7 linked regions of the Homo sapiens genome follow. The protein of the gene in region 5 interacts with the protein of the main gene of each other region in a biochemical or structural test. Each region holds a gene or a part of one and is shown on either strand. Other genes may lie near its edges. The genes, in order: INCENP, AATF, IFI16, PPP1CC, AURKA, ARPC2 and OTUB1.

Region 1 (3,580 bases), on a different chromosome or scaffold from region 5:
AGGCGTAGGGTGTAGCTAATGTGCAGGGTGCTGGGCAGAGCAGGGGGCTTTGAGGGTGGCGGTGTGATAGTCATAGTGTCGGCAGCTTTGGTGGGTACCCGAGCTGCATGCTTTACACCTGTTTCCTTGTTTAGTCCTCAGTTGAAGCCCATGGTGGCATGGGAGCCATCAGCTCCACTTCACACAGGGGGAAACAGGTCCAGAGAGGTTAAATGACATGTTCAAAGTCATGAGCCAGTGTGTTGTGGAGGTGACTCCAGAACTCATCCACAGCCTCTTGTTCATGCTTGGAGCCAGTGTCTGCCCTGAAGGTTAGGATAAAAAGGGGTATTGTGGATTATCCCATTTGATTCTCATGTTGACCCTGGAGGAAATGTGTTATGGTCTCCATTGTATAAAAGTGTTATGAGGCTCAGAGACCCAAGTTACAAGGAAAAGTGGGGGCCAAATGTTGGGCTCCAGCTTGTGTTCCCTGCACCCTCAGGTGTGCACACTTCTAGCCCCGGGGCAAAAGCGCAGCTCTTGGCTCTAAGCTGGTTGCCCATTCAGCAATCCCACTTTCTAAGGTGTGTCCTACTGGCTGGGCCTGGTTTCCCCAGCAGGGATGGGAACAGGGCTTGGGCTGGGCCTCCACTTCCTGTCCTAACAGGCTCTTGCTGGGTCCTCAGGGAGCTGCAGGAGCGGGAGAAGGCCCTGCGGCTGCAGAAGGAGCAGCTGCAGAGGGAACTGGAGGAGAAGAAGAAGAAGGTGAGGGGAGCTGGGTTGCGGGCTCCCCTGGGGTCTGCCCTGAGCTGTGGGCGGGTCTGGACTCCTGCAGCAGGGGCTGCCTAGGGAGGGGAGGGAAAGGGAGGAGAATGGAGCGGAGGGAAGGGGAGGGGAGGGAAGGGCACCTGCACAGCTCCCTAACACCCCATTGCCACCTGGGTTCCAGGAAGAGCAGCAGCGTCTGGCTGAGCGGCAGCTGCAGGAGGAGCAAGAGAAGAAAGCCAAGGAGGCAGCAGGGGCCAGCAAGGCCCTGAATGTGACTGTGGACGTGCAGGTGCCACCTGGGCCCCAGTGGAGAGGCTCTCAGGTGGAGGGGCCCACTCTATTCTCTTCCCAGTAGCTAGAGGCACAGGCTGTGTTAGGCCCCTAAGGAAAAGGACAGATACACTTGGCCCAATTGTTTTTACTTCTTTTTATATTCTTTGTTATTCTAAAAGTAGAATTTGTTGAGGTGGGGGATAAAAAGGAACTAAACTTTATAGAAGAGTATACAGTTTTAAAAAAAGGGACCCTCAGGAAAACTCTACTAAGCGCGTTGTATATCCTTCTAGATTTTTACTTATGTAACCCTTTTAACACACACACAGATATCCTCTCTCTCTCTCTCTCTCTTTCACCCATACACATACATATTTAAAATGGGCACATACCATTTGGTGGCTTGATTTCCAGGCCCCCAACCCCCATGGTTTTTTTTCACTTAGTATATTATAGACATCTGTCTATTTCAACACAGGTCAATTTCTTAGTTTTGATGGCTGTGTACCTTAATTGTGCTGGAATTCAGCCGGCTCCTCTTGATGAGCATTTGATCTATTTTCACTTCACTGCTGTTACCAAACAAAACAATGTTTTCATTGCAGCATTGTTAAGATGTGGAAAACTTGGAAGTTAGTATGGTATCTGTCAATGATGGATGGTTACGTTGCAAATCCTGGAGTCTCCTTAGTGGTTCCCAGGAGGATTCTAGACACACTGACCTGGAAGAAAGTTTGCAATACACCTTAGCATCAAAAAAGGAGATACAGAGTCGTGTGTGTTCTGTGACTTTTTAAAATTAAAAAGTAGGCCTGGTGCAGTGGTTCTCGCCTGTAATCCCAGCATATTGGGAGGCCAAGGGGACAGATTACTTGAGGTCAGGAGTTCGAGACCAGCCTGGTCAACATAGTGAAACCCAGTCTCTACTAAACATACAAAAAATTGGCCGGGTGTGGTGGTGCACACCTGTAATCCAGCTACTTGGGAAAGCTGAGGCATGAGAATCTCTTGAACCTGGGAGGCGGAGGTTGCAGTGAGCCGAGATCACACCACTGCACTCCAGCCTGGGCGACAGTGAGATTCTGTCTCAAAAAAAAAGAAAAAGTGATCCTGCACCTTTTGTTTCTCCTGTGAAATAGGAGGAGGTGAGCAGTGCCCCAGCACTCCTCGGTGGTGAGAGATGGGAATGCCATGGAGGGAACTGACGGCCACGTTTGTTTTTGCAGTCTCCAGCTTGTACCTCATATCAGATGACTCCGCAAGGGCACAGGGCCCCTCCCAAGATCAACCCAGATAACTACGGGATGGATCTGAATAGCGACGACTCCACCGATGATGAGGCCCATCCCCGGAAGCCCATCCCCACCTGGGCCCGAGGTAAGCAAAGCCCACAGCTCCCTGGGAGACTCAGGCCCTCCCTGGTCCTCACCTTGAGGGCCCTGGAAGTAGTGGGTTGGCTGCTGCGGTGTTGGGAGGCTGCCGTGTGCTTCAGTTGGCAGTTCGAGGCTCTAGCCTTGGGTATGCATGTGCCCTGGGGAGTGTGGGGCACCCTGTGGTCATTGTGCTTTCCTGAGGACCAGACCTATGAGGTTGGGTTCCTTTGTTCTCAACAAATATATGAAATTGTGCTGGGCTTGGGCATGGCATATGCTGCTGGGTGTCCTGACTTGGACTAGGCCCTTCCTTAGAGTCCCATCCAGCAGGGCTGAAGAGACTTGGACCTAAGTAAGCCACCTGGGGCAGAGGCAGAGCTAGAATGGGGAAGGGTTTAGGCAGAACACCAAGCTGGAGCCTGGGGCTTCCAGCCAGCTCGGGGAGGCAGGAAAGTCCTTGAGGAGTGCATGAGGCACTTGAGCAGGATCTGACCTGGAGTTTACAGGCCCCAGCATTAAACCAGAATGTGGGTGAGCGTGACTGCAATGTCTCAGGCCTGAGTGCAAGGCCAGCTTGAGTGAGCAGGGTAGGTGCTAGAAGTGGGTGCTGCCAGAGTGGATGGGGCCCGTGGGTACCATGGGTGCCTTGCAGTGGTTGCTGAGCCGGAAGTCAGGGAGGGGTGCAGACGCCCCAGAGGGAAGGGCCTGGAATCCCATAGCTGGTAGGCACACTACAGAAACTTGTTTTTGTGAGTTTCACCTCATCTGAACCCTACAGTAACTGGCATGTGCTTTAAGCCTCTTAACTACTAGTGTCAAGTCATTTGGGAGATGGCAGTGAGCAGGAGCCAGCTCGCTTGCAAAGCCATCTAATCGGAGGTGACTTTGAACAGCTTACTTAAATAGTTTCCTCATCCGTGAAAGGGGGGTGAAGACAAGACCCAGCTGAGGAGTTCTGTTGAGAGTGACATGAGTGAGCTCACGGCTGGCCCTTAGAGCCGCACCTGGTGCTGAGCAAGTGCTGGTGCATGTCTGGCCTCCTGATCCCCTGGGTCTTCCTCAGCCCCGTTGTCAGGACTGTGCCTTCCCACATCCACTGCCCAGAGGCCCCCTCAGCACTGCACCAGGGCCTGTGGGGTCTGTGAGAAGCAGCTGGCCAAGGTGGTCAAGGATGGCATCCTATG
Region 2 (4,251 bases), on a different chromosome or scaffold from region 5:
TGTAGGTAGAACCGCCTTAAGACATTCAAGATCAATGTGTAGGATTTCCCAGGTAGGGAGTTCAGTGAACGTTTCTTGTAGGTGAATACCTGATGTAATTAGGAATGGCTTCCTAGAGTCCAGTTTTTGGGTTTTGTGTCCCGCCACACTTAAAGTCTGCTTCTTCCCCTGTGGGAAGTCTGGGCAGTCCTTCCCAGGAGCCTTACGTGGCCTGTGTGGGTGAGGTGGGCCATTTATATCCCCGCCCCTGTCTTTGCCTCCTTTCTCTCTCAAATAGATGACAGATTGATGGTTTTCAAGTTTTTTGAGATTTTTGGAGCACTTCTCTGCTATTTTTAGTGTCCTAGTACCCTAATTCCTGGTATGCCTTTGGAATGAGACCTAGACTGCTCTAGATTAAATGTTTTAAATGTTTCACGATAAGGCCTGTTTTCATTTTGTTACTCATTATTCTTTTTGCTTGAGCCTTTTTCATTTTAAAAAATTCATATTTAAATATAGATATTTTAGGGGTTAGTCAGTGTCCAGTATAATGGACACATATTCTTGGATACGATTTAATTTCTTTTTGTTATGAGACAGGGTCTTGCTCTGTTGCCCAGGCTGGAGTGCAGTAGCGTGATCATAGCTCGTTGCAGCTTCGAACTCTTGGGTTCAAGTGATCTTCCCGCCTCAGCCTCCTGAGTAGCTGGTACTACAGGCATGAGCCACCATGCCCGACTAATTTTTTCTTTTTTTGTGGAAATAGGGTCTCACTATGTTGACCAGGCTGGTCTCAAAACTCCTGGTTTCAAATGATCCTTCCGTGTCAGCCTCCCCAAAATGCTGGGATTACAGGTGTGAGCCACCATACTCAACTCATTTAGTGTCTTTAATCACTGCAGTGTTATTTAACTTTTATTTTGTTCTGATCTTTTTACTCTTTTTTGTACTTAACCAATTGCCTTTACCTCATTGATGAACCTCAATTAATCTGACAGCATCTATTAATCTGACAGGGTGGGTTGTGGTGGAGGAGGGAGAAGAAAGGAAGTTTGGTATCACATATTCTAAGGTGGGAGGGTAGGGAGTTTTCAAGTAATGAGCTGTGCATTTGAAGAGTAGCTAATTTTTCTTGTGGCAATATGACATAATATGTTGTATACTCCCCTGTCTTGATAAACAGACTTTAAGAAAAAAATTCTTGGCCGGGTGCAGTGGCTCACGCCTGTAATGCCAGCACTTTGGGAGGCCGAGGTGGGCTGATCACCTGAGGTCAGAAGTTTGAGCCCAGCCTGGCCAATGTGGTGAAACCCCGTCTCTACTGAAAATACAAAAATTAGCCAAGTGTGGTGGCAGGTGCCTGTAATCTCAGCTACTCGGGAGGCTGAGGCAGGAGAATTGCTTGAACCTGTGAGGCGGAGGCTGCAGCGAGCCAAGATTGTGCCATTGCACTCCAGCCTGGGCAACAAGAGTGAAACTCCGTCTCAAAAAAAAAAAAAAAGTTCTTGGCCGGGCACGGTGGCTCCCGCTTATAATCCCAGCACTTTGGGAGGCTGAGGCAGGCGGATCACTTTAGGTCAAGAGTTTGAGACCAGCCTAGCCAACGTGGTGAAATCCCATCTTTAATAAAAATAAAAATATTAGCCAGGTATGGTGGTACACACTTGTAGTCCCAGCTACTTGGGAGGTTGAGGCAGGAGAATCACTTGAACCCGGGAGCAAAGGTTGTAGTGAGCTGAGATCGTGCTAGTGCACTCTAGCCTGAGCGACAAGAGCGAAACTGTCCCCCCCGAAAAAAAAAAGAGAGAGAGAGAGAAAATTCTTGAGCACATTACTCTGGATGACCAATTTATTACTGTGCTGTATAGCTGGTGTGGAACATAGGCTGAATTTGTACCAACCCCAGAACAACCACTGGAACTTACTGTCTTTAATTAAATCTCTTTTCAATTTGCTTGGTCTTACAGAGTAGTTAAAGTCAGACCGGCTTGGTTTAGATTTCATCTCAGCAATGGATTAGCCATGTGACCTTGGGCAAGTTACTTAACTTCACAGTAAAATGGGGATAATATGGTTGTGAGGATTAAAGGACATAATCAATAGAAAGCATTAGCACAGTGTCTGGCACACATCTCACCATGAATGTTAGGTACTAATATTATCTTTTTCTGCTCAAAGAGGCATTTGGCAGTGTTCGACCATGTGAGCAATCACTCAATAGTTATCAGTGTAACTGAGCCTCACTAGTCTTCAGTGTTTTTTACTTTTTTATTAGTATTTGGATTCTTTATATAATTTAAATTAACTAATTGTTCTGGAAAGTGTTATAGTTTACTAATACTTACAATGCAGTGTTGGCCTCTTACGACGCTATGGAAAGATGGCTACAGATTTCCTTATTGCTATACCCAGCTACTACCTCCTTGAAGCGTTTAACTTTTCCTTGAAATACTTTTCTTTGGCTTGGTGACACTACCTGTGCTGTTTGGGTTCTCCTACCTTTCTGATCTCTTCTCTGGTTCCTTTTGTATCCTCTCAATGTAAATTTCATTCCGTTTAGAATCCTGTCCTCAGGTTGCGTTTTCTCAATATAGTCTCTCCTTGGCACTGTCACTTACTCTGATAACCCTAACTATTGCCTCTAAAATAACAGACTTCCAGCTGTATTCTAGCTCCAGTAAACTCCTGAGTACCATGCCTTTGTAGCTTCAGCACCCTAAACTCTACTTTTCAGAAACTAAATGAATATCTCCTTCCTCTCCACACACCACCCCAAACACGTAAACTTAGTCCCCAGTCACCTTGGTGTTACATGTTGGTAATTTAAACTTGAACTGTGGAAGTGATTTCAAAGACATCGTCTGATATTTTAGTGGCTGCATAAGTGGTAAGTCATGGAGTAATCTTAACAAAATTAAGGGATTTTCTGTGCACAAAACCATTTCTCTAAAAGGGTTTGCTTTTTCTCTCTTTCTTTTTTTTCTTTTTTTTTTGAGATGGAGTCTCTCTCTGTCACCCAGGCTGGAGTGCAGTGGTGCGATCTCAACTCACTGCAACTTCTGCCTCCCAGGTTCAAGCGATTCTCCTGTCTCTGCCTCCTGGGTAGCTGGGACTACAGGCGCATGCCACCACACCCGGCTAATTTTTGTAATTTTTTTTAGTAGAGATGGGGTTTCACCATGTTGGCCAGGCTGGTCCTAAACTCCTGATCTTGTGATCCACCCACCTTGGCCTCTCAAAGTGCTGGGCTTACAGGTATGAGCCACTGTGCCTGGCCTTCTCTCTTTTAGAATTTCTACTGTATTAGGAAATACATCTTTTATGTTGGTGGCAATGATATGTAAGGAAGAAGGGAAGTTACTTAAGGAAATCTCACCATGAGTTATTTAAAACTTTTCATTATGGGATATATCAAACTTATATAAAAGTAGAGAAATAGCACAGTGAACCCCCACATGCCTTCACCAGCTTAAGCAATAATCAATTCATGGTCAATCTTATTTCATCTGTAGTTGTACCAACTCTGCTCACCTTCTGGATTATTTTGAAGCAAATAATACACATTCTCTCATCAGTAAAATTTTCAGCATGTATGTTCAAAAGATAAGGATTTTAAAAAATTATACCATAATCTCATGTAAAAACATTAACAGTAATTTCTTAATAAACATAACTGGCCTGGTGTGGTGGCTCATGCCTGTAATCCTAGCACTTTGGGAGGCCAAGACAGGTGGATCACCTGAGGTCAGGAGTTCGAGGCCAACCTGACCAACATTATGAAACCCCGTCTCTACTGAAAATACAAAAAATTAGCTGGGTGTGGTGGCGGGCACCTGTAATTCCAGCTATTCAGGAGGCCAAACAGGAAAATCTCTTAAACTCGGGAGGTGGAGGTCGCAGTGAGGCGAGATTGCGCCACTGCACTCCAGCCTGGGCAACGAGCAAAACTCCGTCTCAAAAAAAACAAACATACAGACTGGGTGTGGTGGCTCATGCCTGTAATCCCAGCACTTTGGGAGGCCAAGGTGGGCAGATCACCTGAGGTCCGGAGTTCAAGACCAGCCTGGCCAACATAATGAAACACCGTCTCTACAAAAGTACAAAAATTAGCCAGGCATGATGGTGGGTTCCTGTAATCCCATCTACTCAGGAGGCTGAGGTGGGAGAATTGCTTGAACCCAGGAGGCAGAGGTTACAGTGAGCAGAGATCATGCCATTGCACTCCAGCCTGGGTGACAGAGCGAGAGTCTGTCTCAAGAAAACAAACAA
Region 3 (4,251 bases), on a different chromosome or scaffold from region 5:
AGGAGAGGGAGGCTGAGTCTGTTCCTCGGACACCTTACTCCCTTTGGGTCCAGCCTTTTCTTTGGTTGATTTTTTTCTTTTCTGAAAGTGGTTTGATTTTCCTGTTATTCGTTTTCAGTGCCAAATGAAGTAGAGCACATTTTCATTATTGGATAGTAGTTTTATTATTCCTAAGAAGATGTTTCTTGGAAACTTGAGAGGTTGCTGCCCATCTCTCGCCAGTTTAAGAGATGGGCATAGATGGTTTCATTAAACGAAGAAAGAGGAGAATGTTATACACATTATTTCTCTAATTATTTCTGTTATGGGATGTGCTGACTTGGGATTAGAGAAACTAGGTTTTTATACACATGGACAAAGTACTTACCTGATTCTCACGTTGACACTCCACTCTACTAGAATGAAGGTATCACATTTATGTTATATATATTTACATTATGTTTACTCATGTGTTTGGTGCATTGCTTTGAGCATCAATAAGATGATCAATTATCATACAATTTGGTAAATCTGAAACTTGATGGGAAACATGAAGAAATAACTGCCTGCTGGAGAGATTGAGTGGAAGAGCCGTAGCAGAGCTTCCTCTGTGGGACTTGAAGCCTGCTCCTCTTCCTGAAGCTTACCTGAGCTCCAGGAGTTGCCTCTGCTCCTTCAGTTTTGACAGTGCTGCTTGTGGAGGGTGCAGGTGAAGTAGCATCCACTTCCTTCTTCCTCTTTCTTGATAGGGCTGGTCCTTTTACTGGAATAGATTCAATTTTATTCCCAACCAATGCAGAAAAAAGGAAGACATATAAACGATCTCCGACAGCTGAAGCAGTTTCAATACAATTTGCTCTCAGTTCCTGCTTGAGGGTTCAGCTGTGCTTTAGTCTAGCTCTACTGCATTAGCCCAGCCTGGCCTTAAGGAGACCAGCAGTCACAAGACAGGAACAAGCACTGACTCATGCTCCTCAGCACTTTCCTCACTCCTCCCCTGTGCACTGAGCACATGCTTCCTGTTCTCTGAACTCCATGTGCTTCAGTTAACCCTTTCCCAATGCGGTTCTCCGATCATTTTGTTTTAAAAACTAATGTTTTCATGATGGAGACTGCTAGGTCACATTCCCCAGGTAAAGATATTCAAATTATAGAAACCAGCCAAAGGTTTCCATGAGGAAGGATATACTGATTTTGGACTTAGACTTTTTCAAATCCTTTTTTTTAACTTGATATAACAAGAGAGGAGATCACACTTCTGAGAGGCAGGCTCACATGTAAGTATTGCATTTTTTTAAATTATAAAGGGTAGTGATGGGTTAAATGGTCTCAATAGAACAGATACATTCATTGGCTAAATGTACATATCTTGAATTTAAACAGTTTTTATGATTTTATTATTATATAATCTTTCTAATGTACTGGAAGTCTCAGTCCCCCTTCAACTCCCTCTCACTTTTGTTCTTTCACTGATCCCAAATATACATTCTGAAATACTTCAATCTACACCAGTAATGGAATGCACTAAGTTGTCAACTTGTTGGCCTCTGAAGTACCAACATTGTCTCAGCTGTTGAGTCACAAACTGGGGAAAACACATCTCAAGTATGTCCGAGGTGGGGCTCTAATCAATGTTGGGGAGGGTTTGGGGATGGTTGCAGGGAGTGGGTGTTCCCTCTTCCCAATTACCTTTTAACTTTTCTTTTTTAAGAGTTTCAGCCAGGTCTTCAAGCGTTGGTATATCTTCGAAAATTTTTATTAGTTTGCCCAAACCAGCATCACCTCGGAACTTTTCTTCCATCAAGTCAGCAATCTGAATTTTGTCATACTCTTCTCTCATTTTTAAATTAAGTTTTAAATCGTTGCTCAGTAAGGACTTAACCATTCTAAAATGATAATCATTGATGACCTCTAATCCTTTTAGTAGAACAATGTTCTTGTATTTTTTTCCCATCTTTACAGACATAAGTGAGCCTACAAGAGAAAATGGTATATACAGTGTTACACATGTATACAGACAATTTAAAAGATGTATGCCTATGTGAGTGAGTGGCCCATATGAAAGAGTTGTTCATGAATATGTGTGATAAAGAAGGACTCAACGACCAAATGTGTTACTGTAGAAATTGAGTGAAGAACTGCTGGGTTAGGAATGTCTAAGAAATTATTCCCATTGAATGAGAATAGTTGAGTTGGGTCCAGTTGTTAGAGGGAGGTCTGAGAACAAGCAATTGCCTCAGTGTTAAGAGTATGAGCTCTGCAGTGTCAAAGCCCTTGGTTCCTCTTCTTATCCTTTACTGGGGCTGAAGCCTATTCCCCAAATCCTGCCTGTTGTTTCTTAAATCTTCCCACACCCAGTATGACTGGAGCGGCCTAGGTGTAAATGGGCTGCAGCCTCCCACCTTATATGAATAACTTTCTGCTACAGCGCTACAGTTTCATGCTGTGGCACTGACCCTATTCTCCTTGACTCTTCCCTAGTTGGCTTTCATTAGCATCCTCCCTTCTTTGGTGCTAGACCATGGCTTCTGTTCTCTGTACCCATAAAACCATAACTTTGCTGAAAATCTGCATGCTTTCTAGTGCAGCATCACAGTATTTATTCACTGAAATGATTTTATTGGTTGTTTTATTTTTCTTCTTTCAGACTTGATTTGTCTAATTATTTCTTTTCGCACAATCAGTTTTCTCTCGATAAGCCACATTTATATTCCACTGAAATCCTTCAATATTTCTCCTTTTTCTTCCCCAAAATTCCTTGCTTCCTATACTGTCTCAGAAAGTGTTGAATAAGCTGCATCTTTTTTACTTCTAGTACCTTTGTACTCCTTGTATCTATGCTTCACAAAGATGCCGGACACCTTGTGTCTTCATGCCTCATGACTTTGCTAGTTCCTTCTTACTGCCTGGAAAGCCATTCCCACATTTCTTTCTTTGACTACTTCCCATACAACCTTAAGACTCAACTGAGGCTTTGTCTCATGGTAGATTTCAGAGTCTCCCTATGGACAGAGTGTCACTGCTCTTGACCTCTTAACACCTGTACACTTCCATGATGACAGTGCAAGGTATGGATTCCAAAACTTTTAAATTAATGAATTTTTTAATTTTAGGAATGATGTCTTTGTGTATAACCAAGATATCTAAATTTCAGGGGCTATTAATTGGGCCAGGCGCAGTGGCTCACGCCTGTAATTCCAGCATGTTGGGAGGCCGAGGTGGTCGAATCACAAGTTCCGGAGATCAAAAGCATCCTGGCTAACACAGTGAGACCTCGTTTCCACTAAAAATACCAAAAATTAGCCAGGTGTGGTGGCAAGCGCTTGCAGTCCCAGCTACTCGGGAGGCTGAGGCAGGAGAATTGCTTGAACCCAGGAGACGGAGGTTGCAGTGAGCGGAGATCGTGCCACTACACTCCAGCCTGGGTGACAGAGTGAGACTCCGTCAAAAAAAAAAAAAAAAAAAAAAAAAAGCTTCCTTCTTACGAGAACATGAGGATCCTTGGACTGAAAAGGTCCAGAGAATGAAGGGAAAATCTATACAAAAACACATTATAGTGAAACTGAAGAATATAATGAACAAAAATACTCTGTAAGCCTTCGGTAATGAGGAATAGATCACCTACAAAGATTCAAGAATCAAATTGAAAGTGAATCTCTATATCAAAACTGCCTGAAGCAGGACAATGGAGTTATTTTTATATAATGTTGGTCCAAAGTTCCATATCAATTGCAAAACCAAAAAAAATTTTCAATGGAAAGTTTTGACTTATTTTGTGAGTGTGCTAGAAACAATAAGTTCGTCTTCAAACTTTCCTGTTCTTTCCTGTTCTGTAAACAACCCTTCCTTCCTTTGCCGCCCCAGACATGCCTTCCCGCCTAATTGGTACAGGACAGTGTCTTCCTTCCCGCCTAATTACCCCTATAGAATTTAAAGCAGTAGCCAATCCGGTCAGCTTAGAATGTGCATTGTGACTGACGCAGGCAGCACCCTTCTGTAGAAGCAAATATGCTTTGCTGAGAAATTTCCTGTTTAAGTGCTGGTTTTTCTTTGTGGCACTGAGCACTTGTTTCCAACAAGTGTGACAGCACAATTTATTTGCAAAATAAAACCAGATTTGGGATGACAGTAGGCTATGTATAATCTTTATTTCACTGAAATGTGAACACTCACATGTTTTGTTTTGCAATATTAGTGCTTTTGATTTTGGAGTAATTATTTATATCCCAATGGAGTTTCTAGTAAGACACTATTTAGAATATATACACTAAA
Region 4 (4,107 bases), on a different chromosome or scaffold from region 5:
CCAAATGTGAAGGACACTCCTCTGTCATTTTCACCCCAGCCTAAGACATCTTTATCGGGGTCAGACCACAAAAGATCACAAAGAAGACCTTGATCTGGTACATCAGTTGGTCGCATAATTCGCCGAATCTGCTCCATAGATTGAAGATCTGGTGATAAACCTATTCAATGAGGAAAAAAAAAAAATGAAGAAAGCAGAACTTTTAAAAGGATACTACCCCTTCAAAAGTTCCATTTGTCTACAGAGAAATTCAATAATCCTGACATAAAAACTGAAATCTATGATTATATTTTATTTACTTTTGGTTAAAAGAAAAAAACACAGAAAAAGGACAACTGGATACACACTAGAATTACATGCAGTAATGCATGGGGTGCAGTAGGTTTAAACAGTACATGGAAACAATTATATTATACAGAACACTGTAAAATAAAATCCAGTGATTTAAAAAACTCTTCTATGGGCTTCCCCCAGTTGATGACAATAATGAGCGATGTTATGATTGATGGCTTATAATGACTGAGCTGAGAAGATAAGGATGCTCAGTGTGAGGTAGTTCTCTAGGAAACCTGCACTGTTCACAGACCATTAAAATCTACAAGAGCTTATTGTATCGAGTTACAATATGGGATGCATATTGTAAGAGTTAAAAACCATGTATCCAACTCTACCAAAACCTAAGTACAGAAGCACAGAGATAAAAGACATTATGCAGGCTTTTTGATGGCTAAAATCTACAAGAGCTTATTGTATCGAGTTACAATATGGGATGCATATTGTAAGAGTTAAAAACCATGTATCCAACTCTACCAAAACCTAAGTACAGAAGCACAGAGATAAAAGACATTATGCAGGCTTTTTGATGGCTGATTAATTTCAGACCATACAGGAAAAGAAATTCTCTTTGCAATTACTATTTTAATTACATTATAGAAAGCACAACCACTGAGCAAAGCAAAACAGCTTATAACATATATATGTATATATTTTCAGAGATAGGGTCTTGCTCTGTTGCCTAGGCTGGAGTGCAGTGGTGCGATCATAGCTCACTGCAGCCTTAAACCCCTGGGTTCAAGCGATCCTCCCGCCTCAGCCTCCCAAATAGCTACGGCTACAGGTGTGCACCATTACACCTGGCTAACTTTTACAACTTTTTCTAATGACAGGGGTCTCGATATGTTATAGGCTGTTCTCATATTCATGGCATCAAGCAATCCTCCTGGCTTGGCCTCTCCAAAGTGCTGGAATTACAGATGCGAGCCACTATGCCTGGCCAAAATAACTTTTAAAATCCAAGTCAGAGAAAGTTCTGAGAGGATAAAAAACAATCAAGGGAAAATCTACTCACATCTTGAGTGTTCTAGAGGATCTCTGGCACAACAAATTACACATTGTTCATTTTATAGTTAAAAACACTCTTCTGCCGGGCGTGGTGGCTCAAGTCTGTAATCCCAGCACTTTGGGAGGCCGAGGCGGGCAGATCACGAGGTCAGGAGATTGAGACCATCCTGGCTAACACGGTGAAGCCCCGTCTCTACTAAAAATACAAAAAATTAGCCAAGCGTGGTGGCGGGTGGCTGCAGTCCCAGCTACTCAGGAGGCTGAGGCAGGAGAATGGCGTGAACCTGGGAGGCAGAGCTTGCAGTGAGCCGAGATGGTGCCACTGCGCTCCAGCCTGGGTGAGAGAGCGAGACTCTGTCTCAAAAAACAAAAACAAAAACAAAAAAAACCAAAAACTTTTCTAAGCCGGGCACAGTGGCTTACACCTGTAACCCAGCACTTTGGAAGTCCGAGGCAGGAGGACTGCTTGAGCCCAGGAATTTGTGACCAGACTGGGCAACGTGGTGAGAACTCATCCTTACAAAAAATAAAATAAAAATAAAAATTTTCTGCTCTATTTTCAAACCTAGCTTACAGAGTCTAGAATTCCCTGTAATAAATCAATTCCTTAAGATTTTTATCCAAATGATCCTGGCTGTATCAGAGTGAAAGTGCAATGCAACACATCAACAAAGGAGAGTGTTCTGTCAGAGAAAGTCATCCCAATGATAACTCACAAATGTTAAAGTGTTCACCCTTTGGAAGGGATCAAAACCTATTTGGAACAAAAATCAGCCCACCTACCTCCATGACAGCAGAATATCTTCTCATCCACGATGGCTGCTATCGGTAAACAGTTAAAACAGTCTGTGAAAGTTTTCCATAGTTTAATGTTGTATCTTCTTTTACCTGTGATTAAAAAGAGAGTATTACATTAAAAAGAGAGTATTACTGTTCCGTAGGCTCATTCTCTCAGGATTAACTTCCCCCAAAGCAAGATTCTGGGTGCCTTTTAAGCAAATGAAACTATGTTTTTATTAAGAATCTTAATAAAACCATCTTATTTTAAGGCTCTTTTAAAATAAGAGCTGGGCGTGGTGGGTCAGACCTGTAATCCCAGCACTTCGGGAGGCTGAGGTAGGAGGATGGCTTGAGCCCAGGAGTTCAAGACCATCTTGGGCAACATAGTGAGACCCCATCTCTTTAAAGAAAGACTCTCCTAGAGGGAAGGGGTTTAGGAGAGACACATATCTGATCTAAAAGCAATGACTTACATTTTCACATGAAATCTTTTTAAATTCCACAGAAGCATGAAACCAGAATTCCAGATTTGATAATGATTAAGGACTGCCATCAAATCCCAGGAATTATCTGGGAGCATCAATTCTGTTTGAAATTGTCTGCTCTGTCCAATCTCACCGCAGCTAGTCCCCTACTTCTGAATTCAATTACGAACTTACACATGTGGCGTTATGACCTTCCTTCTGAGGAAACCTGAGAGTTAGCACCCATCCCCCATATATGCCCCTCAATAACCTACTGACACCAGAGGATCCCCAGCCCTCAGTACTCTAGCAGGAGGCACAATGATCACACGGCAGTGGCTGCCTCTCACAGGCACTACAGGGCATTTGTTTCCAACACTGCACAGACTCCACATGCTCCCACAGGCCTGATGTCACAGGATGGTCATGTTCCCTCAACAGCACAGGCATCCACACATTCTGGAGTCAGAGTGCAGTTCTGACAGAAATATGCCTCTATGCACTGTTTCTACAGGAAACTGATGTTCTGAGTTTAAAACCTAGTCACATACCTTGCAAGAACAAATTTCTCTGGATTGGTTGAGGATTGTCCAATTGTCCAGATGCCTTTGTTTCCTGTACTTACTATACTAAGCACAATCTTTAAAAACCAGGAGTTTGGCCAGGCGCGGTGGCTCACACCTGTAATCCCAGCACTTTGGGAGGCCGAGGCGGGCAGACCATCTGAGGTTGGGAGTTTGAGACCAGCCTGACCAACATGAAGAAATCCCGTCTCTACTAAAAATATAAAAATTAGCTGGGCGTGGTGGCGCATGCCTGTAATCCCAGCTACTTGGGAGGCTAAGGCAGAAGAGTCACTTGAACCTGGGAGGCGGAGGTTGCGGTGAGCCTTGATTGTGCCATTGCACTCCGGCTTGGGCAACAAGAGCGAAACTCCGTCTCAAAAAACAAAACAAAACAAACAAAACAAACCAAGAGTTTGTCCTTAGTCTCTTTTCCTGGGGAATACAGGGACATCTAAAGGTTTAAACCTATACCTCTCCTTTGAGAGTTAGAGCCAGCCCAAGCAACTGACCTGAACCACACCTCCCACCCTGTAATGCAAATCAAGCAGCTTAGGGAGTTTACCACAGGGCTTGAAATGAAATGTAAATTCAACAAATGTTTGCCTTCTCTCTGCAGAGGAGTGTTATCTTTTCTCCTAATAATTTCTGGTTTCTCAATGACTGGGTCTAACACTGACTATGGTTCACCCTGTTGCATATTTCTTTAGAGGTCCTTCACTAGGGGGTTCGGAAAGTTTAACAAACTTCTCCCGCCAGGCTGAGGAAGGAAAATTGCTTGAACCTGGGAGGCAGAGGTTGCAGTAAGCCAAGATCGCACCATTGCACTCCAGCATGGGCAACAAGAGTGAAACTCCGTCTCAAAAAAAAGCAAACTCCTTCTTACGAAAGGCTGAAGGGCAATCTCCAAAAACCACCAACTCCCATTTCCAACAGCAATACTACTACTACTACCACCA
Region 5 (3,914 bases):
GTCAGTCACGTGATAATAACTATAGCTTGGGAGGGTGGCACATGAACTATTTGGGAAGGTCAAAGTCAGTTCAGCTCAAGACTATGAGAACCAGAAGCCCCTTTGTCCCAAGGGGGCTGGCAGCTGCAGTTTTACTGAGTCATGTTTTTAAGTTTCTCTATATTGGCCACTTTGTTATGACATATCCTGACATACCTGCTGTCCAGTTTCTTGCACTGAGCATTGGCCATGCAAGCAGATTTCTCTACTAGCTCTAAGTTCAACACTTCTACTTTTCCTTCATCACAGTCACTTTCACCGTATCTTTAGTCGATGGACAGATGACAAAGATATGACAAATATATAAACAATATATATAATGAAGTATTAGGAGTACACCCAACAGGAGAGACCAGAAGAGGCAGGACTAGATGAGGGCGAGACCTGCTCCTCTCAGCCCCTGCTCATTTCCAGGCCAACAATGAACAGATGGTGGAAAGAATTACACAGCACTCCACACAGACATAGATACTTATTTATTTGCATATTTAAAGTTTACACACATGCTATGACTCCAATGTTTTAAAAAAATAAGCCCTTAACAGCTCTGAGACACATGGCCTCTTCTGTATCCCAAGCAAATCCCTAAATGGAGGTAGAGCACGTGTTCCTATTTTTCACACTCTCATATGGGAGATAAGTGGTTAAGGAGGACTAGAAACCCAATCAGGCCTACCGGGGTGCCGGACAGACACACAGCATTCCTAAAGGAATGCCACCAGAGAAAAAATACAAGTCTGTACATATATCTTTATTTTCATACTTAAAAAGAATCACATACTCATTCCAACAGCTTTACCAGGCTTCGCCAACCCAATAAGTTACACACTCACTCAGGTACTAGGAAGGTTATTGCACAGCTCCTTAACTGATCGGGGTCAGGGCAGAGTGGTCACTTTCCCCACAGCCAGGCTCTGGATTTGCCTCCTGTGAAGACACCATGCCTAGCACAGGCTGACGGGGCGGCTGCAGTCGAACCTTGCCTCCAGATTATGAACCAGTATAAGTAGCACAATTCTCGTGGCTACTTTCACTTCAGAGTGTCATGTTTATTGATGTGGAGCTTTCTGAATAGGGAGGTTAAGGCACACCTGCTGAGTAAAACAAATATTTCTTGTGTAGCGTTCTAGATTGAGGGCAGCAGTCAATGGTAAAATAAACTTCAGTAGCATGTTCCTGTCAGGTTATATGGCAGCCCTGGCTCAAGGATTTCTCCCCCTGCACGATTCCTAAGACTGTTTGCTAGCTGATTCTTTGTTTTGGCAATTTGATGGTTTTGATGAATTTGCTGTGATCCAGGGGTGTTCAAGTACTTCTCTGAGCATTGGCCTCTGGCTGGGATTATGCTTCAACAGTCTTGAAATGAGGTCCCTGGCTCCCTCTGTTACAAAGTCAGGGAATGTGAATTCAACCTGGAGTACAACAAATGATAAAATATCACAAAACACAGGTTAGAGAGATCAAATAGTATAGATGTTCGGATCTTGGCCTGCAGTTCAGGCTGATAAGGAAAGAATTCCAGCAGATGTGCTGGGTCCTTTTCAGTTGCGTCTTACCCGTGATATTCTTTTGTAGGTCTCTTGGTATGTGTTTGCCTCAAAAGGAGGCTTCCCAACTAAAAATTCATAGCAAAGAACTCCAAGGCTCCAGAGATCCACCTTCTCATCATGCATCCGACCTTCAATCATTTCAGGGGGCAGGTAGTCCAGGGTGCCACAGAGAGTGGTCCTCCTGAAAACGGAGGGAGGCTCAGGTTGATGTGCTTCTCGTTTTATGATCACAACAGCTGCTAACAATCATTAAAGAGTCCACTAACACTGAGGTCTTCCCCTGGGCCAGATCCTGTGCCCTAGGAAGTAGCTACTATTATAAATTCCCATAGGAAACAGATGAAGCGAGGTGTGTAAGGTCACACAGCTAGCCATCAGGCTTAACCCCAAATCTGTCCAACTCCAGAACCTCCCTGAATAATCTAGAATGTAAGAAACTGAATGTATCACTACCATATAAAAGCTGCCATGCAAAGTTCTCTGTAAATACGATTTGGATTCTACATCTGCATGTGGATATTACAGATATGCTAAGAATCTTAAAAGCCTGGTCGCAATGACAATACACTAGAAACTGTCCCACTGTAACAGCACTGGGGTGGAGATGTAGACACATGCTGCCTTGTGATAGATACTTGGTACGAGTGATGCTGAAATTTTGAGGGTGGCCTATGAAGTACTCTTGCCAAAAATATTTAACCTGGCTGGGTGCAGTGGCTCATGCCTGTAATGCCAGCACTTTGGGAGGCCGAGGGAGGCGGATCACGAGGTCAGGAGATCGAGACCATCCTGGCTAACATGGTGAAACGCCGTATCTACTAAAAATACAAAAAATTAGCCGGGTGTGGTGGTGTGCGCCTGTAGTCCTAGCTACTCAGGAGGCTGAGGCAGAAGAATGGCGTGAACCCGGGAGGCGAGCTTGTAGTGAGCCAAGATCGCACCACTGCACTCCAGCCTGGGTGACAGAGCGAGACTCTGTCTCAAAAAAAAAAAAAAATTTTCTTAACCTGAATCTCTTCAGGACCTGAGACCTACATTCCAGTTTTCAGCAAATACGGGGAATAAAGGTCCAAGTTAAGTGGCAACACAATCAGAAAAGTCCTCTTTAAAGTGGGAGACTGGTCTGGCTTTAGACCACAGAGACAATCCAACCACAGAGACAGTCCAACCACAGAGACAGTCCAACCACAGAGACAATCCAACCACATAGACAGTCCAATACAAAGCATGGGCTTTGGTTGAGTTCTGATTTTACAAACCAGCTATAAGATGTCATGGACAATAGGAGAAATCTGAATGTGGACTAAATATTAGATACTGACAATGCTGTTAATTTTCTTAGGAGTGATCATGGTTCTAGTTATATAGGAGAATATCCTTATTTAGGAAATGCATTCTATTATAGTGCTTAAGGTTGAAGCATCATGATGTTTGCAACGTATTTTCAAGTGTTCACTAAAAAAGCAGATGCAGCCCTTCTGACTAAATGGGAAAAACTGCTGAACGTAGGCACTGTATAGACAGGTATGCCATCAACTACCAATTCCGCATTTTTATCGGTTTAGGTTTTTTTAACGAAGGTTGGAAAAAAGCTGGGAACAGCAGACAGCAAGCCAGAACAGTCTGTGTGGGTTCGTGTTGCTTTGTTATCAGCTGCTCTTCACCATGGAGGCTTACGTGGTCACAGCCCTGGTGCTGTGTTCAGCCAGGCCTGGCACCCACTGAGCACACAAACAGTCACTCACCACTGAATTGTGACGTAGGATTAAGAAGCTACCACTCTGGTCATCTAACCCCTCCATCAGCACCGACGGACTGAATCGGGGGTTCTCAAACTGAGGCAATAACCAGGAAATGATGATGATTAACATCTGGGATTTGGAGTGAAGTGACTATCGGTTATGTAAGTAATCTTTTCAAAAAGCAAGAAGCCATCTTTTCTATCACAATTCAACCGGTTAAGATACAGTTTAACTCTGCGATTCCATGAAGCCTGTAAGTCTTTATTCTGGTTTGTCTCACCAGATAACAGCTCCCACTAATGACAACCAGTTTAAAAAAAAAAAAAAAAAAAAAGACTGCAATAGCAGATTCAGTGCATTGCTGGAACAATTAGAAGTGCTCTGTAACAAAAGCAAAGGTTTTCTCCCTCATATTCTATTTTAGGCTATACTTTTTTTTTAACTAGCTTGATTTTTAAGTCATTTGGCTATAATTTGAGTCCTCCTCCAAAGTTGACAAAACTTCATCGGTAGATATATGTTTTAAAATGCCCCACTTCATGTGAAGTTTCAAAGCTTATTTAAACTCAAATTTAAAACAGTA
Region 6 (3,898 bases), on a different chromosome or scaffold from region 5:
AAGACTCCATCTCAAAAAAAGACCTGTGTGCTCATCACAAAGTCCTTTGCACTACAGCAGGCCTGCATGCCCCTCTTGCCCTGGTTTTCTGGAATCGTTTTTACCTGCTGCACCTCCTCTACTCACTATCTGCAAAACCCCGTCAGTTGTCTGAAGTTTTCGTTGAAATGAAAAGGAATGCCTCCTAAGGAAGTGTGGAATTTCTGTGTCAATGTGCCCTGGCCTGAAAGTAAATGAACACCACAACAGAAGACAACTATACTTCAAAGAATCTAAGGTGCTTATGACTGTAAGTCTGCCATAATTTTATGTACCACAAGAGAAACATGCTGCCAATTAAAGTGTGACATGCTATGAATTGTAAGATGCATCCCAGCTTCAAAGACAAAAACTTGAAAAAAATGGTATAGCTGGCTGGGCGCAGTGGCACACGCCTGTAATCCCAGCACTTTGGGAGGCTGAAGTGAGTGGATTGCTTGAGGCCAGGAGTTGAGATCAGCCTGGCCAACATGGAAACCCTGTTTCTTTTTTTTTTTTTTAATTTTTTTTGAGACGGAGTCTTGTTCTGTCGCCCAGGCTGGAGTGCAGTCGCGTGATCTTGGCCTATTGCAAGCTCCGCCTCCCAGGTTCACGCCATTCTCCTGCCTCAGCCTTCAGGGTAGCTGGGACTACAGGCACCCACCACCACGCCCAGCTAAGTTTTTGTATTTTTTGTAGAGATGGGGTTTCACTGTGTTAGCCAGGATGGTCTCGATCTCCTGACATCGTGATCCACTTGCCTCGGCCTCCCAAAGTGCTGGGATTACAGGCGTGAGCCACCGTGCCCAGCTGGAAACCCTGTTTCTACTGAAAATACAAAAATTAGCCGGGTGTGGTGGCACACGCCTGTGGTCCCAGCTACCTGGGAAGCTGAGGCACGAGAATTGTTTGAGCCTGGGAAGCAGAGGTTGCAGTGAGCCGAGATCACACCACTGCACTCCAGCCTGGGTGACAGAGAGAAAGAAAAAAGAAAAAAGTGTATAGTTTAGATTTAATGAAATTTGGTAAATCAACAGATTCATCACCAATAAACAGGTTCACCTTTACCACTGAGGTGAATTAAATTACATTTCACAAAGGAGACATTCCAGTGGCATTGGGTGCAGTGTGAACAAGCTTATTAATTCCAAACTGTAAGCTATCATAATCAGCCAGTGCATGAGGCTGGAGCAACTGAAGGAAGACCTGAATTTATTCCGCGAAAAAGTGGAGTAAGTGGATCACGGCTGGAGCTTGGGCTTAATAAGCAAAAAACCAAGAATTGCCAAATGACAGAGAACCCCCATCTAGCTGCTTAGGTGGTTCTCTTCTTAACTCCTTTTTTTGGTGAGATAGGGTCTCACTCTGCCACCCAGGCTGGAGTGTAGTGGTGCCATCACAGCTCACTGCAGCCTCTACCTCCTGGGTTCAAGTGATCCTCTCACCTCAGCCTCTCAAGTAGCTATGACTACAGTCATGCACCACCATGCCTAGTTATCTTTTTTTTTGAGACAGTCTCCCAGGCTGGAGCGCAGCAGGATGATCTCGGCTTGCTGCAACCTCCACTTTCTGGGTTTAAGCAATTGCCATGCCTCGCTTGCCCGAGTAGCTGGGACTATAGACTATAGGCACATGTCACCATGTCCAACTAATTTTTGTATTTTTAGTAGAGGTGTGGTTTCACCATGTTGGCCAGGTTGGTCTCGAACTTCTGACCTCAAGTGATCTGCTCGCCTTGGCCTCTTAAAGTGCTGGGATTACAGGTGTGAGCCACTGTGCCTGGCCCCTTGCTTTTTGTAGAGATGAGCCTGCACCATGTTATCCAGGCTGGTCCCAAACTCCTGGACCCAAGTGACCCACCAACCTCGGACTCCCAAAGTGCTGGGATTACAGGTATGAGCCACTGTGCCCCGCCTATCCTTTACTCTTTTCTTTTTTCTTTTTGAGACAAGGTCTCACTCTGTCATCCAGGCTGGAGTGCAATGGTGTGATCTCAGCTCACTGCAACCTCCGCCTCCTGGGTCCAAGGGATTCTTGTGCCTCAGCCTCCCGAGTAGCTGGGATTACAGGCGCACACCACCACGCCCAGCTAATTTCTTTGTTATTTTTTTGGTAGAGACGGAGTGTTTCACCATGTTGGTCAGGCTGGTCTCGAACTCCTGACCTCAGGTGATCTGCCCATGTTGGCCTCCCACAGTGCTAGGATTACAGGCGTGAGACACCGCACCCAGCCTCAACTCTTTTTTTTTTTTTTTGGAGACAAGAGTCTTGTTCTGTTGCCCAGGCTGGAGTCCAGTGGCACGATCTCAGCTCATTACAACCTCCACCTCCCGGGTTCAAGCAATTCTCCTGCCTCAGCCTCTGGAGTACCTGGGACTACAGACGTGCGCCACCATGCCCAGCTAATTTTTTTTTGTATTTTAGTAGAGACAGAGTTTCACCACATTGGCCAGGATGATCTTGATCTCCTGACCTCGTGATCCACCTGCCTTAACCTCCCAAAGTGCTGTGATTACAGCCATGAACCACCGTGCCCAGCCAAAACTGTACTTGTCTCCTTCAAGCTGGAATCGAACCAGCAACCTAAGGACGTCTCCTACTGAGGAAGTAGCTATAGTCCTCTGCTCTACCAGCTGAACTATTGAAGGGACCTTAACTCTTGATATCAGAATTCAGTCTTATTTTTAAGATTTAAGAAAAATGGGGAAAAAAAGGAAAGGATTACTGTACAAAAATAGCATATGGCCTGCTCTGTAATTAATACCCTGTGACATCCCTCCTTTAGTCACTGCAATGGCAACAGGAACAAGTTGGTATGCCTGCGTTTGCCTACCTTAAAATGTTAACCAAGGTTCTGTGCAGATTTAGGTATTCTGCTGTGTGAACTCATTAAAGCGGCACAAAAGCAGCAAGTGCACCCTGCTCACCAAAGGTAATGTAGCCAATGTTGTCACCCACAGCGGCGTCTGTGTCTTTCAGCTCCAGAGGAGGTTCCCTGTGGCTAAAGAGGACCTGTGGGGCTGTGTGGCTGGCTCTGCGTCCTTCTTTGAACTCCTGCCAAGACAAAGCAAAAGCAACCAGAAGAGAAGTGGGTGTAAGATGAGTGGCAACTCAAGCTATAGGGTTTGTTCTATGTGGTGTGACCTTTGTAGCCCTCCAGACCAGCAGGAGGTTAAAAATAAACTACACCAAACCTGAAATATGACAAGTGCTAGCTGCTACCACTACACTTCAGATTCAAACGGGAGAGACTGCAAAGTACTTAATAAGTCAGATCTTCAAAATGTGATGAAAAGTAGTGATAATCCTTTTCCTTTGCACTAACATAGGTGATAAACTACCATACTTTCTCTGGGCTCTGGGACTTTGCATGAGTCTTTTTTCACTGAGGATCCTGTTGCTATTTAGAATTCATCAATAAAATCTTTAGAGCAAACTTAAGCTCTTCTTGCGGACAGAAGACAATGGAATGAAAGAAGCTGAGTTGTCTTGGTGCTCATAAAGGAAGCCCTTCCTTCTATGTTCCAATCTCCAAACCTGAAGCTTCTACAGTCCATACATTCCTATGTAAATAGACAAGTAATACAAGGCTTCTCTCTCTCAGCCAGATCTGCAAGAACAGAAGTAGATTTTCTAGCAATGCCAGTAAAACTGGATAATCCAAATTCATCAAGTGGGCCTTCCAAGATGATAGACAGCAGGAGGATGCTGCCAAGGACTCTCCAAGGTCTCTTGTTTTAGGAGTTCTGAAGGCATGGTTACACAGCCATGTGGCCTGCGTGCCCTTCTACTGCTGCTCAAATACTGCCTCCTAATACCATCTCCAACAAACCCAGGCAGGTACTGCTCTCTTGCTGGAGCTGCCATGTCTTTTCTACAA
Region 7 (4,251 bases), on a different chromosome or scaffold from region 5:
CTCAAGCAATTTTTTTTTTTTTTTTTTGAGACAGTCTCGCTCTGTCGTCCAGGCTGGAGTGCAGTAGCGCGATCTCGGTTCACTGCAACCTCCGCCTTCCGGGTTCAAGCAATTCTCCTGTCTCAGCCTCCTGAGTAGCTGGGACTACAGGCGCGCGCCACTATGCCCGGCTAATTTTTTTGTATTTTTAGTAGAGATGGGGTTTCACCATGTTGGCCAGGCTGGTTTTGAACTCCTGCCCTCAAGTGATCCACCCACCTTGGCCTCCCAAAGTGCTAGGATTACAGGCATGAGCCATTGCCCCTAGCCAAAGTCTCAAGGATTTAAATAGCCCCAAGTGTGAATCTCAACTCTCAACTCCAATTACGATCCTCCTATCTACCAGCCTCACCACACCTCCTCTGAACTGTCCAACAGGCATTTCCACTGAGTGCAGCTGAGATCAACCTCCGAACAACTGCTCCTCCCCGAGGCTGCCCCACCTCAGTCACCCACAGCACCCAAAGCCTTCCAGTCGCTGCCGACTCCATCACCATATCCATCCCTTCAATATGTCTGGTATCCAACTGCTTCTTACTCCTCACCTCTACCACCCGCTGCCCGCCTCCAGCAGATTTTACTGCACAAGTCTCCTGGCAGTGTCCCTGCCTCCCCTTCACCCTCTGGAGTTTATTCTCACCCCAGCAAGAGAATGGCCAGGGTCGGCTTGGCGTGATGGCCCAGGCCTGTAATCCCAGCACTTTGGGAGGCCAAAGTGGGTGGATCATTTGAGGTCAGGAGTTCAAGACCAGCCTAGCCAATATGGTGAAACCCCGCCTCTACTAAAAATACAAAAATTAGCCAGGCATGGTGGTGGGCATCTGTAATCCCAGCACTTTGGGAGGCCAAAGTGGGTGGATCATTTGAGGTCAGGAGTTCAAGACCAGCCTAGCCAATATGGTGAAACCCCACCTCTACTAAAAATACAAAAATTAGCCAGGCATGGTGGCGAGCATCTGTAATCCCAGCTACTCAGGAGGCTGAGGCAGGAGAATTGCTTGAACCCGGGAGGTGGAGGTTGCAGTGAGCTGAGATGGTGCCATTGCACTCCAGTGCACTCCAGCCTGGGTGACAGGGCAACACTCTCTCTCAAAAAAAAAGAAAAGTGACCAGAGTCACCTGCCAGATGCACCCTATCTCCATCTCCCTCAGAGTCCTTTCTCTCGCCACAACACCCCACCCCGCCCCGCCCCGCTCAGTTCCCCAGCCCCAACCCCTCATTCTCCACCAGCCACACTGGCCTCCATGCTGGCCTCAAACCATCCAGGTGCCCTCTCGCCTCGGGCCTGGGTGGGCACTGCTCTCGGACGCCTGTGACTCGCTCCCCGGTCTTTTTCTGTTCATTACTCAAATACCACCTCATCAGCAAGGCCTTCACCAAGCCCTGTTTAAAATGGCAAATGCTCCCACTCCCAATCCCCTCTTTTTTTTTTTTGAGGTGGAGTTTTGCTCTGGTCACTCAGGCTGGAGTGCAGTGGCACAATCTCGGCTCACCGCAACCTCCACTTCCCAGGTTCAAGAGATTCTGCTGCCTCAGCCTAAGTAGCTGGGATTACAGGGATGCGCCACCACACCCGGCTAATTTTGTATTTTTAGTAGAGACGAGGTTTCACCATGTTAGTCATGCTGGTCTCGAACTCCTGACCTCAGGTGATCCACCTGCCTCAGCCTCCCAGTGTGCTGGGATTACAGGCGTGAGCCACCACGCCCGGCCCCGATCCCCTTTTCATTTTTCTCCACAGCACTCACCGCCTTCTGATACCCCACATGTCCCAGAGCCCTCTTTGGCTTATCATGTCTTTCCACCCTGAACTGTAAGTTTTGTGAGGGCAGGACTTTGTCTGCATGGCTCTATCTTCAGTACCTAGAACAGCGCCTGGACCACAGTCCGTTCTCAATAAACGTTAAATGAGTAGCACACCAGGACCACAAAGAACCCAAATCACCACTGCTACTGTAGCAGCCACCATGGCCATTGTGAGCACACTCTCTGTGCCAGGGATTTGGCACAGGGCGAATAAACGTCATCCTAATTGATCCTCACAAGAGCCCATTTAGAGAGAGAGGAGCTCTCTCTGCTTGGGCTCTGCTGCCACAGCTGTCTCTGCCCAGGGAGAAAAGGTGGGCTCAGGCACAGCATACAGAATGCGGGTGCTGGGGGCACAGAGAGGCCTTTTAGACAGCATGCTCTGGACATCCAAATGTTTGATGACTCCGTGGGAAGAACCTGGGGCCCAGCCTGTCCTGTCCACTTTACCAGGGTGGTCTAGCATGAGCGGCAGGCCTTGGCATGGGGGGTCCCACTGGAGGACACTGACATAAGAGGAATGAATGAATGAAGCTCACCCCCTGTATGGGGAGAGGAGCAGCTTTGTAACCCGCTGCTTACAACCGCCCGTAACATCTCCTTCAACCCTCACAATTGCCCTGTGAGGCAGACAATGTCCCCGCCCAGAGAGAACAGGGGATCCAAGAGCTTCAGGGTGTTGCCCGAGATCACACAGCTCAAAGTGGTGAGGCCAGGACTGGAACCCAGGCCCATCAGGCTCCACAGCCAGTGCCTTCATCTCTCCACAGGCACCCTGAGGAAATCTAGCTCCCTGAGGAGGGGGCCTCAGTAGATCACAGTGCACAGATCTCACACAGCTGGATCTGGCCTGCAGGTGTGTTTGGCCCACACATTTAAAATTTGAATTAGCTGCCAACTGTTAGAAGTCAGGAGCTGTGGTTACCTCTGGCTTCTCTTGGAAAAACAGATCTGGAGACAATGGTATGGACACTCCCATTTCCCCCAGGGGCCTCTGCTCCCTATTAGTGTCTGGCTGATACTGAGCTGTGCTGCCCTCCTTGTTCACCATCTGACTTCCTGGCCACCTTCAATCACCTGGGTTACCTACCTGGCCACAGAGGCCTCCCCTACCAGTAGAGGACTCTAAGCATCTGTCATCTTCCAGGGGAAGAGAAACATTTACTAAACACCTACACTGAGCCTACCAGATACTGTTTCCACACACCCATTGTCACATTTATTTATTTATTTATTTATTTATTTTTTTATTTTTTTAAGAGACAGGTCTCACTGTCACCCAGGCTGGAGTGCAGTGGTACAATCATGGCTCAACTTCTTGGGCTCAAGTGATCCTCCAACCGCAGCCTCTTGAGTAGCTGGGACTATAGACATGTGCTACCACACCCAGTAATTTTTTGATTTGGAGAGACAAGGTCTCACTATGTTGCCTGGGTTGGTCTTGAACTCCTGGGCTCAAGCGATCCTCTGGCCTCAGCCTCCCAAAGTGCTAGGATTCCAGGCTTGAGCCACCATGCCTGGCCCCATTTCACATGTCATCCTCCCAGCTCACAGACCTAGAAAGTGGGTGGTGAAGTTTGCCTCCGTTTGAGTGATGCAGCAGGGCCCTTTGAGGAAATCTGTGGCCCCTTGACCCCACTGCTGCCTGCCTCTCCACAAAGATCCAGGAGGCAAGCTGTGGGAAACAGCCCTCTGGCAACCCTCCTACCCCACTGAGCACCAGCCTGGTCAGCCCCCGTATGGGCACCGAGATCATCAGCTCCTGCCCAGCCTGCACCTCCCTCAATCTCACAATCGCCCTATGGGAAGATGCTTTTTTTTTTTTTTTGAGACGGAGTCTCACTCTGTCGCCCAGGCTGGAGTGCAGTAGCGCGATCTCGGCTCACTGCAACCTCCGCCTCCCGGGTTCACACCATTCTCCTGCCTCAGCCTCTCCGAGTAGCTGGGACTACAGGTGCCCACCACCACGCCTGGCTAATTTTTTTGTATTTTTAGTAGAGACGGGGTTTCACCGTGGTCTCGATCTCCTGACCTCGTGATCCGCCCGCCTCAGCCTGCCAAAGTGCTGGGATTACAAGTGTAAGCCACCGCGCCAGGCCTTTTTTTTTTTTTTTTTTGAGACGGAGTCTTACTCCGTCGCTCAGGCTAGAGTACAGTGCGGGATCTTGCCTCACTGCAACCTCCGCCTCCCAGATGCAAGCAATTCTCCTGCCTCAGCCTTCCCAATAGCTGGAACTACACGCGCGCACCACCACTCCCAGCTAATTTTTGTATTTTTAGTACAGATGGGGTTTCGCCATGTTGACCAGGCTGGTCTCGAACTCCTGACCTCAGGTGATCTGCCCGCCTCAACCTCCCAAAGTGCTGGGATTACAGGCGTGAGCCACCGTGCCCGGCCAGAAGAT

Evidence for each region.
Region 1: the proteins of AURKA (region 5) and INCENP form a complex in vitro, tested with the Homo sapiens proteins (3 studies listed by BioGRID and IntAct, with this or other methods).
Region 2: the proteins of AURKA (region 5) and AATF form a complex in vitro, tested with the Homo sapiens proteins (one study listed by BioGRID).
Region 3: the proteins of AURKA (region 5) and IFI16 form a complex in vitro, tested with the Homo sapiens proteins (one study listed by BioGRID).
Region 4: the proteins of AURKA (region 5) and PPP1CC form a complex in vitro, tested with the Homo sapiens proteins (one study listed by BioGRID).
Region 6: the proteins of AURKA (region 5) and ARPC2 form a complex in vitro, tested with the Homo sapiens proteins (one study listed by BioGRID).
Region 7: of the proteins of AURKA (region 5) and OTUB1, one has a biochemical effect on the other in vitro, tested with the Homo sapiens proteins (one study listed by BioGRID).

Annotation. Positions count from the first base shown.
Region 1 is NC_000011.10:62,147,808-62,151,387, forward strand, and holds part of INCENP (inner centromere protein), read left to right. Parts: intron 1-668; coding exon 669-747; intron 748-931; coding exon 932-1,039; coding exon of another isoform or gene 1,040-1,072; intron 1,073-2,249; coding exon 2,250-2,400; intron 2,401-3,580. UniProt on the Homo sapiens protein: Component of the chromosomal passenger complex (CPC), a complex that acts as a key regulator of mitosis.
Region 2 is NC_000017.11:36,955,206-36,959,456, forward strand, and holds part of AATF (protein AATF), read left to right. Parts: intron 1-4,251. UniProt on the Homo sapiens protein: Part of the small subunit (SSU) processome, first precursor of the small eukaryotic ribosomal subunit.
Region 3 is NC_000001.11:159,012,363-159,016,613, reverse strand, and holds part of IFI16 (gamma-interferon-inducible protein 16), read right to left. Parts: intron 4,108-4,251; exon of another isoform or gene 3,134-4,107; intron 3,048-3,133; exon of another isoform or gene 2,564-3,047; intron 1,954-2,563; 5' UTR 1,946-1,953; coding exon of another isoform or gene 1,934-1,945; coding exon 1,669-1,933; intron 743-1,668; coding exon 627-742; intron 82-626; coding exon 1-81.
Region 4 is NC_000012.12:110,722,536-110,726,642, forward strand, and holds part of PPP1CC (serine/threonine-protein phosphatase PP1-gamma catalytic subunit), read right to left. Parts: intron 2,230-4,107; coding exon 2,125-2,229; intron 161-2,124; coding exon 1-160. UniProt on the Homo sapiens protein: Protein phosphatase that associates with over 200 regulatory proteins to form highly specific holoenzymes which dephosphorylate hundreds of biological targets.
Region 5 is NC_000020.11:56,368,890-56,372,803, forward strand, and holds the end of AURKA (aurora kinase A), read right to left. Parts: intron 1,771-3,914; coding exon 1,596-1,770; intron 1,452-1,595; coding exon 1,269-1,451; 3' UTR 501-1,268; downstream 1-500. UniProt on the Homo sapiens protein: Mitotic serine/threonine kinase that contributes to the regulation of cell cycle progression.
Region 6 is NC_000002.12:218,244,594-218,248,491, reverse strand, and holds part of ARPC2 (actin-related protein 2/3 complex subunit 2), read right to left. Parts: intron 3,073-3,898; coding exon 2,946-3,072; intron 2,667-2,945; exon of another isoform or gene 2,574-2,666; intron 1-2,573. UniProt on the Homo sapiens protein: Actin-binding component of the Arp2/3 complex, a multiprotein complex that mediates actin polymerization upon stimulation by nucleation-promoting factor (NPF).
Region 7 is NC_000011.10:63,989,438-63,993,688, reverse strand, and holds part of OTUB1 (ubiquitin thioesterase OTUB1), read right to left. Parts: intron 1-4,251. UniProt on the Homo sapiens protein: Hydrolase that can specifically remove 'Lys-48'-linked conjugated ubiquitin from proteins and plays an important regulatory role at the level of protein turnover by preventing degradation.